Homo sapiens: one gene and its partner. The protein of the gene in region 1 interacts with the protein of each later gene in a pairwise test. Each region holds a gene or a part of one and is shown in the gene's direction. Other genes may lie near its edges.

Region 1 (6,495 bases):
GGAGAAGCTGTAGGACAAGAGGTTGACCTTTGCCCCGTGGAGCTCAAGGTGCACCAGGGAGACAGGCCTGGAGCACCTGCTGCTAACAACAAGCAAAATTACAAAACAAAACTTTAAAAACCAGGTTGAGGAGGCAGAGGTGCGGGGACCTGGGAGGGCCTTGTCAGAAATGTGGCTGTCACATGGAGCCCAGGGGAGAGGGGAGGAGGTGAAGGAAGGCTCTGTGCAGGGGCTGCGTGCGGGAAGGCCCAGAGGACCAAGAACATTCTCAGGATGGAAAGGAGAGGAGGAGAGGGTGGAGACATGGGTGGGGGTCAGGCAGGATGAGCGTCAGCTGAGGATGCATTTTGGCTGGACTGCAGACAGTTCAAGGAGAATCTGCACTGGAGAGATCTATTTTCAAGGCTGGGTATGCAGGCAGCACCAGGACACGGGCAGCCACGTGATGCATCACGCAGCGGGGCTGCTTCCGGGAGCCAAAGGGGATGCTGTTCACAATTACCTGGGTCCCAGGCACAAGCCAGGGCTGTCCTGGCAAATGGGCCACCTTGCCAGTGGATCCGTGCCAGCTGCTTCGGTAACCATGGTGGTCTCCAATAATTATCCTGTGAATTGTGTGGCTCAAGTGGAGCAGACCTGGGTTACAGCTACCCTGACATCCCTCAGCGCCAGGAACTCAGGTCCATGTCACAGCCCTATTCTTTGTGTTTTAATCCAATGTGGATTCACCTGATGTTTACTGAGCCCAGACTGCCAGTGGTTTATTTTATTTTATTTTATATTTTATTTTTTTTTGAGACGGAGTCTCGCTCTGTCACCCAGGCTGTGTGTTCTCAGCTTGCTGCAACCTCCACCTCCCGAGTTCAACCGATTCTCCTGCCTCAGCCTCCTGAATAGCTGGGACTACAGGCACCCACCACCACGCCTGGCTAATTTTTGTATTTTTAGTAGAGATGGATTTTCACCATGTTGGCCAGGCTGGTCTCAAACTCCTCATGTAATCCCTCATGCTGGGATTACAGGCATGAGCCATAGCACCCAGCCAGTGTTTGTATTTTCACAGGTGAGACATAAAGGCTCAGAGAGGGCAGGCACTTGACCAAAGTCACACAGCTGATAGATGGCTGAGCTGGGATTTGACCCAGGGTCTTGTGCCTCACAGCTGTTACCCCACCCTTCCTGTCTCCCTTGGATTTCAGGTGACAAGTGTCCTAGGTTCCTGATCACAAACTCAGGGTGGAGACAGGACAGCTTTGTCAGTCCTTTATTCTCTCTAGAGGAGGTGCTCAGTATATCACAGCAGTGGCTGATGTCGGGTGCTTGCCACAGCTCAGCACTGCTCTAATAACTCATCCTAACCACACCAAGCCTTGCTGAGACCTCTGAGCAATCCCACCAGGAGATACAGTGAGGTCCAGCCACTCAGGCCACACAGCGAACAGGAGGCAGGGCTGGTATGGGTGCAGGTGCCAACCCCGACTGTGCCGCCTCTCGGCTAAGCACCTGTGCAGTGACTGAGTGGGCTCGCAAACAGAGGGCTCTGCAGGTGGAGCACCCCAGGCAAGTCCCCACCATCAGCCCCATTCTGCAGGCGCGGCCCCGGGGCCAGGGATGGGAGGGTCTTGCCGGGCATCCAGCGAGGAGACTGCATATTCCCTGCCCAATCTGGCTTCACGGCGGCGGAACTGACGCCACGTCCCAGGGCGTTCGGGGCTGCCAGGCCTGGTGAGCACCGCGGACATCTCAGATGGCCGTTCTGCAGGTTGAGGCCCTCGGTGCCAGCGTCCCCGTGGGCAGTTCTGTGGCTTCCCTGGCCCATGTCGTCCTCTTGGCAGTGGCCACATCACAGCACCAGGTGGGATCAAAGGGGAGGGCAGCTCCCCAGGTGGACCTGAGCTTCTCACACTCTGACAAGCCCTCGCCTGCTGATCCAAGACACAGTGGCCTTTGAAATTCGATTTCCTTCCCCAGGTGAAAGAGGAGAACAGATTCTACACAGGGTCGGACTCAGTTCCCTTTTGATGTCTGTGGTGGCAGAGGGTGGGGAGGGACAGGAACTCACACAGGAGGGCAATCGTCCCGATCTGACGGGGGCGGGATGGATGAGAAAAGCTGGGAAAGGAGGAATCCGGCCCAGAGAACAATGCTGGCAAAAACGCGTCCTGGCCAACAGGTGCCAGGTTTCGTCTCTGGGCAGAACTGTCCCATGCTCTTTGTCTGCACGGGAGGAGGGGGCGGCAGCTGGTGTAAGTGCCACGCCAAGCTTTGCCCAGTCCCTTTGTTCTGCCATAGAGTAAAGATTGCCTTTCTTCCCCACCAGCCAGATGAAATCCCCAGGCCCACAGCAGCTTCACAAACAGCGGGGAGCCTGGAGGGGCAAGGGTGGCCAGGGCGTCATGTCCCGGCCCCTGACCTGCTGGGATCTGAGCTGCTGCCGGGGGAGCTTTGCTCTCTCCAGCCCCAGCTCCTCCAAGCTGCTGCTGTTCTTCCTCCTATGGCTGAGGCTCCACGGTCACCAGCTCCAAGAGCAGCAACCCAGCGAGGGGCTTAAAGCTGGCAGTGGGGACTCAGAGGGTGCCTGCCCTGCCCCTCCCATGCGATGGCAGGCCGTAGGGTTGCCGTGAGAGGCTGGAGGTTGTCGCGGCCTCTAGTCACGGTCCTGTCTTATAGAGTCCCTGCTCCCCTCAGAGCCACGTTGGAGAAATGACTGGTGGACGGTGCGGGGCTGCAGTGGAAAGGGCCTCCCTTGCAGTCCTTGGCTCCAGGCTCTCGCTGGAGGTCATGGGGACAGCTTCCAGACAATGGCCGGGACGCTGGGTGCACTCAGGCTGTGCCACCGATGCTGTGGCCACCACGGGGCATCCCCTTGCCTGCTCTGAGACTCAGTTTCTGTACCCATAAAATGGGCACAATAACACCCCATCCGCTTGTCCCGTTTCATTTTTCCTCACAGCATCATCAGTACCTGATACGAATTTCCTGGTTGACTCACTCACTCACTGCCTGTCTCTCCTGCCAATGGTGGCAATTCCTTGAGGGCAGGGACTCGGTTCCCCAGAGCATGCCTGGCACGGTGCAGTGAACAGACGAGTGGACGCAGTGTACACGTGGGTGCGGCGAAAGCTGCTGGATGGCAGCGTCTGCGTGGCATGGCCCGGGGCTGACGGGTCTCCTCCAACTTGCAGGGGGGCTTCGGGATCCTGGAGGAGATGTGTGTCAACTACGTGCACTACTACCCCCAGACGCAGCTGGAGCTCTGCAAGAGCGCTGTGGACGCCGGCTTCCTGCAGAAGTACTTCCACCTCATCAACAGGTGAGGGCTCCCTGCACAAGCTCCCTGCCCCCAGGGAACCCCGACACAGAACCTCGGGCCTGTTAGGCGGCTGGGCAGATTGGAGGAGTCCAGGCTAAGTTCTAGGAGCAGAGACCTGTGGCGGCATCACTCACCCCTCCCCTCACTCGTTTCCTGCTGAGTCTGGATTTGGCTTCAGAGCCTCCTCAACCCAGCCTGCAGCAGCCATTACCCACCCGCCAAGGTGACAGGAGAGGTGAGGCCGTTGCCGGTGAAGGCAGCATCTGGGGTGGCCTGGCGGAGGCAGCGGGGCTGGGGAGGAGGTGGCAGGACGGTTGCCCCAGGGACAGGACTCGAGTTGCAGGGAGGTGTTGCTGGTGCCCACTGGGCTCCCTGCCCGTCAGCTGCTCCCCAGCCTGGCTGTTCCTTGTCCCCACCAGGTTCAACAACGAGGATGTCTGCACCTGCCCTCAGGCGTCCGTGTCTCAGCAGTTCACCTCTGTTCCCTGGAACTCCTTCAACCGCGACGTACTGAAGGCCCTGTACAGCTTCGCGCCCATCTCCATGCACTGCAACAAGTCCTCAGCCGTCCGCTTCCAGGTGCGCTGCCATGGGCCCGGGTGGGGCATGCAGTCAGGCAGGCCTCATGGGGGGCCCCAGTGAGGGGTGATGGGTCTGCACTCCAAACTGCTGGCAAAAGCACTCGCACAAGACAATGAGAGCAAGTGCCAGGTGGTGACACATAGGCCTAGACAGCCAGCCAGCCAGCAGAGAGAGAGGAGAGAGGAGAGAGAGGAGAGAGAGGAGAGAGAGGAGAGAGAGGAGAGAGGGAGAGGGAGAGAGGGAGAGGGAGAGAGGAGAGAGAGAGGAGAGAGAGAGAGAGAGAGAGGGAGAGAGAGAGAACCAATAACGAGGCAAGGAAGGGAGGGCAGGCACCCTCTCTGGTGACACCTCCACACTGTACCGAATGCCAAATGCAGGTGGTGTGAGCAGGGCGCACTAACCTGCCTAAAAATAAAGCACCAGGGGAGGGGAAGGTAAGAAACGAACCAGTCTGAAGCTGCGAGCTGGTTTTTTCCTCCTTATCTGAGACCCACTGGTATTCGAAGGCATCTAATTTATCCTGGGCCCACTGGGCTGTGGTCAGGAGGCCAGGGCCTATGCAGAGTTAGTCGCGTAAGGTGCCGCAGCCTGGAGATCCAGGAAGATCCTTCCCAGAAGCATTTGGGAGCCAGATTAACTGCTAAGTCAAACATCCTCAGCACCAAGGGAAGGAAGGGCTAATACTGGCTTGCTGAGAATAGTGTGGGGTGGACGTCTGATGGGGTTGAAAACTTGGCATTTGGTGTAGCCTTGAGGGGAAGAGATAGCTAAAAAATATCAGAGCCTGCAGCCAGGGGCTCTGGTTGCTACACTAGGGTGAATGATTAAATTGGGTGGGGACAGAGGCGGGGAGAGGCCTGGATGACTCCCAGGTTCCTGACTAGGTGAATGGGAAGCCAGGGGAGGGGGCATTTACTGAGGTGAGGACCCCCAAAAAGCAACTTGGGGGAGCAGAGTGAGTTCAGTTTGAGACAAGCTGAGTTTGAGGGCAAGAATCCAAGAGGTGGCTGGGAAGTGGCTGGGGAAGCAGCCACCCATCTTGCCCCTCCAGCCTCAGTTTACCTCCTGCCCCCTTCCTTGCAGGGTGAATGGAACCTGCAGCCCCTGCCCAAGGTCATCTCCACACTGGAAGAGCCCACCCCACAGTGCCCCACCAGCCAGGGCCGAAGCCCTGCTGGCCCCACCGTTGTCAGCATTGGTGGGGGCAAAGGCTGAGGGGGGACCTACTCCTCCCCCTCCTCCATGCTGTCCCTGTGGGCTCACACCGGCACTGTGCACTCTACTCTGCGACGATCCCCATGGAACAGCCCTGCACGCCCAGGATGAAGGGGCCAGACCACGCCCCTGCCTGAGACCACGGTCCAATCCAGCCTTCTTCCCCCAGGGTCCCCTGCATGGCTGAGAGGGTGTGGGTGCCCTGTTGACCTACCCTGGACCGAGTGGACCACGACCTCGTCCATTTAAACCCGGCTGACTCAGTGCAGGGACAGCCTGCACAGTGGTCCAGGGTCCAGCCCTCCGCCAGCCCTGTTCCGCCTCACTGGGTGTGGCCTGGCTTCTGGGACAGGCACCATGCTGGGCCGGGGTGTGGAATCACCGGGAACGCCCCCGCCCCCGCCCCGCTGCTCCCGGTGTGCAGCGGGTGCGGGTGCCGCTTAAACATTTCCCTGCTGAGTGGCTCGTGTTTCACAGTGGGCGGCTTCCCTGCGACGGAGGCAGGACCAGGCATTTAGCTAGTTAGAGACTCGCCTGGGAAATTGCTCCATTCCTGAGTAAACAGATATTTTCGCCCACCTAAAGGGAAGCCCTGACAACAACTATCACCAAAAGACGAGGCGGCAAAGATCCAGCGGGGCTTCTGGGCGCCGGTTCCACGTGGGGTGGAATTATTAGCACCAGCTTGCTTCTCTGCCGGTGGGGCCAGCGCTGAACAGACCGGGGTGGAGTCAGGGCTGTGCTTTCCGCGTGGTTCTGCCACTTAGGGAGTGTGCCTTGGGCGGGCCATTTCACATTCCTGACCCTCACTTTTCTCATCTGTAAAACCAGGCTGATGCCGTGCGGGCTAATGAGCCAATAAAGCTCACACTTGGGCTGGCACCCACTGGAGGTGGGTATGTTTGCACTCCGGGCCGTCGCTCCAGGAGAGAGAAGCTTGCTCCTGAGCCTCCTCCCTGTGCCAGGCGTGGTACCAAGTGCTTCCCCCTGAGCGTCCTGAAGCTGCCTCAGCTGGCCTGGGTGGGTCTCCCCTTCCTGCCCTCTGAGCTGCCTCTCAGGGACAAGTTCAGCTCTTTGATGGTTTCTGGAGACAGTAACAGATGCACTTGTGTTCAGCCACTTCAGCAAAACGCTGCCCAGCCTCATGGGGAGAGAGGGAGATGGATGGGCCTCGGAGTCCCCTCGCATCAGCTAAGCGGCTGCTGCTTCTGCAAGGCACTTCACTTCATCACAGAAGGGAAGTCACGAGCCCAGGAGCTCTGCCTCACGTTGTATAAATCACAGCTTCTTGTGGTCCATAAGTCACGGCGCTAGCGCTGTGAAATGCCAGGCCCCAGCCTGGAGAGCCACTCCGGCCCTCTGTCATCTTTACAGCCTAGGTGACA
Region 2 (7,028 bases), on another chromosome or scaffold:
CAGCGTGGTGATTCCCCGTTTCTACAAAAAAAAAAATACAAAAATTTGTTGGGCATGGTGGCATGCACTTGTAGTTGCAGCTACTCTGGAGGCTGAGGTAGGCACATCACTTGAGCCCAGGAGATTGAGGCTGCAGTGACCTACGATCATGCCACTGTACTCCAGCCTAGGCAACAGAGTAAGACCTATCTCAAAATTAATTAATTAAAATAATGGTGTTTATTTTCTCATAGGTGCTGCAGCATGTTCGTTTGCCTTTGCTTAGTCCCAAGTTCCTGGTCGGCACAGTAGGCTCTGATCCCCTCATCAAAAGTGATGAAGAATGCAGGTATGAGTGACCCTGGATGGGAAAAATCAACAACTAAGCATTCCTATTTTTTCCTAATTTCCTTATTTGTATTGCTTCCTAAATATTGTATTTTGCAGAGCTGAAACCAGGGCTTTAATTTAACAAGGTTTTCTTCTGGGCTAGAGTCAAGAGGAGGAAAAGAAGAAGAGAGAACTGAACTTCCAGTGTTTCATTCCATTAGGTTTTTATGTGTGGTGCTTACTGGTGTAGAAGTGGCAATAAAAAGGTAGATTTCCAAGATTTTAATGCAGGCTTGAATTTAAAGAGTCAATTCTCTGCTAATATTTTTTTTTTCCTTGAGATAATTAAATAATGCTGTTGACTCTGTCAATGAACATTTTTTCCTTCCATCACATATGTCTGGTTGGGGAATAGAATCAGCCTTGCTTTCTAAATTGTGGACAGAGTTGAAGATCTGCCACTTTCTAAAACAGCTGTAGAAAGATTTTCACTAAAACTAGGTGAAGCAGTTTCCAGAGGTTTTTTGACGAAAGAAACTCTTAACTACTTTTTCAAAGGGGGGGAAAAAAGCAACCTATTTTACTAGGCTGTCTTTAAAGTATATACAAAATGTAATAAATTACATTCCCAATTTGACAGATTGTAAGATTTAGGTTCAAATCTGAAATCATCTGGGATTGTTAACCATTTTTCCCCAGCATGTCCCAAATATAAAAGTGAAAGAGAAAATCCATACTCAGAACTTTGTAAACTACACTGACCTTTGAACCTCCCTTGGTGATTAAAGACATTTAGAATGATCCCTGATTCTAGAATGGTGGTAGGACATGTAGATTCACTTGCATTTCTTCTATAAACTAAAGCCTGTTCTTTTAACAGGAGAGGCTGGAGGGGATTTTAGATGTTTCTATTTTATTTTATTGTATCTTTTTTATATTAATCATTCTTCATTTTTCAGTTTACCATAGACTAGAGTTAAACTAGATTTTTGTATTCTATATTTAAAACACAGACAGGCCGGGCGCAGTGGCTCACGCCTGTAATCCCAGCACTTTGGGAGGCCGAGGTGGGTGTATCACCTGAGGTCAGGAGTTCGAGACCAGCCTCAACATGGAGAAACTGCATCTGTACTAAAAATACAAAAATTAGCTGGACATGGTGGTGCATGCCTGTAATCCCAGCTATTCAGGAGGCTGAGGCAGGAGAATTGCTTGAACCTGGGAGGTGGAGGTTGCGGTGAGCCAAGATCACACCATTGCTCTCCAGCCTGGGCAACAAAAGTGAAACTCAGTCTCAAAAAAAAAAAAAAAAAACACACAGACAAATGGCAATTAATTCTCCTAAATATTTGCAGTAGCAAAAAGGAAAACCATGTACATTATACATGCTGAAATCTGAAGAAATAATACATAGATGCCCTCCTCCATTAAAAGTAAATCAGATTGTATTGTACTGATTCTGATGCAGAAAGTAAAAGTACTTATGAAGTCATATTTAAAAGAAGACCCTTCCTGATATCCTAACTTCTTTTTGCTGCAGTTTCTTCCTCTATAAAGTGAGGATGATAATAGTGCCTATTCCATAAGGCTGTTGTGAAGATTAAATGAGTTTATATCTATTAAGCACTTAAAACCAGGACTAGCACATAGCTGTAAGTGTTGTTACTACCATTAATTTTGTGTTGGTTTGCTCAATATTATAGCTCTATAGTATTATTTGTAGGAACCCTCAAATGACCTAACAAGCTATTAGGAGATCAAAGTCTTTGTCTTTTTTTTTTTTTTTTTTGAGACGGAGTCTCGCTCTGTTGCCAGGCTGGAGTGCAGTGGTGCAATCTCGACTCACTGCAACCTCTGCCTCCCAAGTTCAACCGATTCTCCTGCTTCAGCCTCCTGAGTAGCTGGGACTACAGGCGCGTACCACCACACCCAGCTACTTTTTGTATTTTTAGTAGAGACGGGGTTTCACCATATTGGCCAGGATGGTCTCAATCTCTTGACCTCATGATCCACCGCCCCTCAGCCTCCCAAAGTGCTGGGATTACAGGCGTGAGCCACTGCAAAGTCATTACATGTGTAATTACTAGACTCTTCTCTTAAAGTGTCTTAACAAGACAGGAAATATGTCTCGGTAGACTTGTTGAGAGTAAACCATTCATATGTTACCAGATAGCAAATTTGTGGCAGTACAGTGTTTCTTTTCAGCAATCCGATTTTTGACCCAGTTTTATTACTTTAATCTAGCAAATAACTATTGCCCTGGCTGATGTGCTACCTTGCTAATATCTTGCAGAATCTAATAAAATTTATTAAAAAGTAGTAACTCTGCAGTGTGGTAATCAAATTGTAATTTTTACTTTTCTATAAGTTATTGTTGGCTGTAAGCATGTTGAGCTTTAGGCTAAATTTGCAGTGAGACATGAGTCATGATGGAAATACCAATCAATTCACAACTCAGTTTGACTGGCATTATTGGTTTCATGTTTGTGCCAATTTTAATATTGGCTGGCATTCATGATTTGGTTTGATTTATGCTTGCTTCCCTTTGCCAACCTATATATTCCTAAACTACATTGGGACTTAACTAACAATGTAATTTAGATATTTGGAATAAAGGCAGAATTTTTTCTACAGAGACTTGGTAGATGAGGCTAAAAACTACCTCCTATTGCCGCAAGAACGACCACTAATGCAAGGACCAAGGACGAGACCACGGAAACCTATCCGATGTGGGGAAGTACTCTTTGCAGGTTTGGATCTTAATATACTGTTAGTAAATTGAGTATTTTCCCAGGTGAGAAACTGTCATTTGAAAAATCCTTTGGACAATTATGATATTTACTGTCATAAGACACAAATAATAAGTCAGCATATAGCTTGACTCATAACCCATGATTCCACACTGATATACTCCAAAAGAGTGCTCTATTCTTTTTTCTCATTCAACACCTTTAATATCTATTTTTATATAAATCCAAAAATGTTGGCTGGTCACAGTGGCTCATGCCTATACAGCTTTCTGGAGGCCAGGCGTTTGAGACCAGCCTGGGCAATATAGGGAGGCCCCATCTTTACAAAAAATAAGAAAAACAATTGGCTGAGTGTGGTAGTGCATGTCTGTAGTCCCAGCTACTTGGGAGGCTGAGACAGGAGGATGGCTTGAGCCTAGGAGGTCAAGGCTGCAGTGAGCTGTGATTGCACCACTGTACTCCAGCCTGGGGAACAGAACAAGATCCTGTCTCAAAAAATAAAAAATAAAAATGTCGTGCAGTAGATGTTTTGTTGAAATGAGTCACATGCATTAATTTATATATCAATGTGCAGCTCATCCCATAATCACATGGAATTGTGAAAAAACATTAAACAATTATAATTTATTTCTCCATTCTATGCATATCCATCTATAATTTCTCCATTCTATCCATATATACATATTATCTCATAATCCTATGTGAATTGGTATCATTGCCTTCCTTTGTAAAATAGACGTAATACTAACTTATTTACAGAATTGATTAAAGATTATAGCAATCCCAGTGGAATGAGTTGAAGTCATAACTTGCATTTTGACCTACTACTAGAGACATTTGGTGAGTCTAAGCATTAGGTCACAGTGAAGTTAGTAGTGAGTGTTACATTTTATGCTTCAGGATAGGATTCTCTTGACCATTTCTGTTACTTCCCCAGTTGGTGGTTGGTGCAGTGGAGATGCCATTTCCAGTGTTGAACGATATGATCCACAGACCAATGAATGGAGAATGGTGGCTTCAATGAGCAAAAGGAGATGCGGAGTTGGGGTCAGTGTTCTTGATGATCTGTTATATGCAGTAGGAGGCCATGATGGATCCTCTTATCTCAATAGTGTTGAAAGGTGAGTAAGGTCAATCTGTAATTTTCTCTCTACTATTCATATAGTTTTATTTGAGATGTTAATTAGGAAACAAATTGATTTAATGCTTTAGTATTGCATCTGTGGCACTAGTTGGCAACCTAAACAAGTTAGTATGATACACAAATTCTTTATGATCTGGTCTCCGCCTATTTTTCTAGTCTGTCTCCCATGACACACTACCACTCCCTAAGCATGCTACTACAGACACATCAAATTGCCTGCAGTTCCTTGGACATGCTGCATGTCCATTCCAAGTCATACCTCTCTCCTTACATATATGCATGCTGTTCTTTTTTCCCTGGGATACTTCTGCCACTTTAAGACTTACATTTCCTTTGGCCAGGTGCAGTGGCTCATGCCTGTAATCCCAGCTACTCGGGAGGCTGAGGCAGGAGAATGGCCAGAACCTGGGAGGCAGAGCTTGCAGTGAGCCGAGATCACGCCACTGCACTCCAGCCTAGGCAAAAGAGCGAGACTCCTTCTCAAAAAAAAAAAAAAAAGAAAAAAAAGACTTACATTTTCTTCAAGACACAAATGTTACTTAATACATACAACTTTCTATGATACCATACAGATGAGTTAGTTACTAGTTACTTGTTCCTTTGCCCTTCCATAAGTATTTTGAACATGTTTGTACATATCCATCACATTGTACTATACGTGTTGAAATGTGTTTCACCATAATATCTATCGCAGTGACTGGGCACATTGGGAATCTCTAGTAACTGATGTTTCAATAGCTTCTTGCTCTCAAGAAGCTGTGTTGATTAACAGTGACTCTTTGTTTCCATAACACATCTATGAAACGCTGCCGCATATCAAGTTCTAAAGATATAGATTGTGCAGCTGGGGAAAAATCTTAAAAAGCAGAGGGATCAGTCCCATAGAAGTAAAACAACTGCAACATGGAGAAACCTCATCTCTACAAAAAATACAAAAATTTACTAGTTGTAGTGGTGCACGCCTGTGAGTCCCAGCTACTCAGGAGACTGAGGCAGGAGGCCCGCTTGAGCCTGGGAGGTAAAGGTTGCCATGAGATGAGATTGCGCCATTGCACTCTAGTCTGGGTGACAGAGCAAGACTCTCTCAAAAAAAAAAAGAAAAAGAAAACAACACACACACTTAAAAATAAATTGATGACATCACAGAAGGGAAAAAATAAATTGATGGCATCACAGAAGGGATCATGGCAGACGGGAGGCAGGACTAGACTGAAGCTCCAGACCGGGCAACATGCGGAGGCTTGATTGCAAATGTTAGCTCCAGACTGACTGCAAGAAAAAATCAGCAATCTCAAGAGGACCCACAGACCCTCTGAAGAAAGCGGACTGCTCCTGCAGCACCCGGGAGAAACCCCAAATATTGGGAGTGCCCCAACTGCAGAAATGGGAAAGGGAGACCCTCCTCTCCCAAACACACACCCCCACTGGAGAAGCTGAAGGTCTGTTTGCAGGAGAAGTTTCCAACTTTACCTGGAGCTGAGTCAAGTTAGAGAGGCAAGCGAAATAACAGGGGTAGAGGAAGCAGCAGAAAGGCCCTGGGAGTTTGCTGGGTCCCCAAGCAGGCCATTCCTGCCTGGCACCACAGGGATCCATTGGGAGGGTGGCCAGAGGAGCAGGGGATAAAACTCCCCAGGGAGAAGGAATTCTCTAGCTGAACTTTGTAACAATTTGAACAGGGTGAGAAGCCTCCTGACCAGAACTCAAGGTAGGGTGCAAATCCTGCATGCAGACTTCACCGGCAGGGGGAAAACTAAAGCCCTTTTCTCTTGCAGCTGGGAGGCGGATAGCCTGGGGCAAGCCTGCTGCCCGCCTGTGGCCTGGAAACAGACTCAGAGTTGTGAGAGGGGCACGGTGGGAGTGAGACCATGGGAGTGAGACCAGCCCTTCAGTTTGTGTGGGAGCTGAGTGAGGCCTGTGACTGCCGGCTTTCCCCCACTTTACTGACAACCTGCATGACTCAGCAGAGGCAGTCATAATCTTCCTAGGTACACAACTCAAGTGACCTAGGAATCTCTTCCCCCATCCCCAACAGCAGTCGCAACAAGACCCGCCCAAGGAGAGTCTGAGCTCAGACATGCCTAATCCTGCCCCCACCTGATGGTCCTTCCCTGTCCACCCTGGTAGTGGAAGACAAAGGGCATATAATCTTGGGAGTTCTAGGACCCCACCTACCACCAGTCTCTCTCCACACTACTACAGCTGATGTTTTCTGGAAAGCACCACCTCCTGGCAGGAGGCCAACCAACACAAAAATAGGGTATTAAACCACCAAAACTAAGGATCCTCACGGAGTCCATTGCACCCTCCACCAGAACAGGTGCTGGTATCCACAGCTGAGAGACCCATAGATGGTTCACATCACAGGACTCTGTGCAGACATCCCCTACTACCAGCCCAGAGCTGAGTAGACTTGCTGGGTGGCTAGACCCAGAAGAGAGACAGCAATCACTGCAATTTGGTTCACAGGAAGCCACATCCATAGGAAAAGAGAGAGAATACTACATCAAGGGAACACTTCGTGGAACAAAAGAATCTGAACGATAGCCTTCATCCCTAGACCTTCCCTCTGACAGAGCCTACCCCAATGAGAAGGAACCAGAAAACCAACCCTGGTAACATGATAAAACAAGGCTCTTCAACACCCCCAAAAAATCATACTAATTCACCAGCAATGGATCCAAACCAAGAAGATTCCCTGATTTACCTGAAAAAGAATTCAGGAGGTTAGTTATTAAGCTAATCAGGGAGGGACCAGAGAAAGGCAAAGCCCAAGGCAAGGAAATCCAAAAATGATACAAGAAGTGAAGGGAGAAACACTCAAGAAA

Evidence for each region.
Region 2: the proteins of DBH (region 1) and KLHL20 interact in binary tests that used the Homo sapiens proteins (3 or more experiments, as listed by UniProt).

What each region holds. Positions count from the first base shown.
Region 1 is NC_000009.12:133,653,338-133,659,832, forward strand, and holds the end of DBH (dopamine beta-hydroxylase precursor), read left to right. Parts: intron 1-1,249; exon of another isoform or gene 1,250-3,185; coding exon 3,186-3,313; intron 3,314-3,732; coding exon 3,733-3,892; exon of another isoform or gene 3,893-4,071; intron 4,072-4,978; coding exon 4,979-5,110; 3' UTR 5,111-5,992; downstream 5,993-6,495. UniProt on the Homo sapiens protein: Catalyzes the hydroxylation of dopamine to noradrenaline (also known as norepinephrine), and is thus vital for regulation of these neurotransmitters.
Region 2 is NC_000001.11:173,752,980-173,760,007, forward strand, and holds part of KLHL20 (kelch-like protein 20), read left to right. Parts: intron 1-233; coding exon 234-328; intron 329-2,943; coding exon 2,944-3,059; intron 3,060-3,996; coding exon 3,997-4,180; intron 4,181-7,028. UniProt on the Homo sapiens protein: Substrate-specific adapter of a BCR (BTB-CUL3-RBX1) E3 ubiquitin-protein ligase complex involved in interferon response and anterograde Golgi to endosome transport.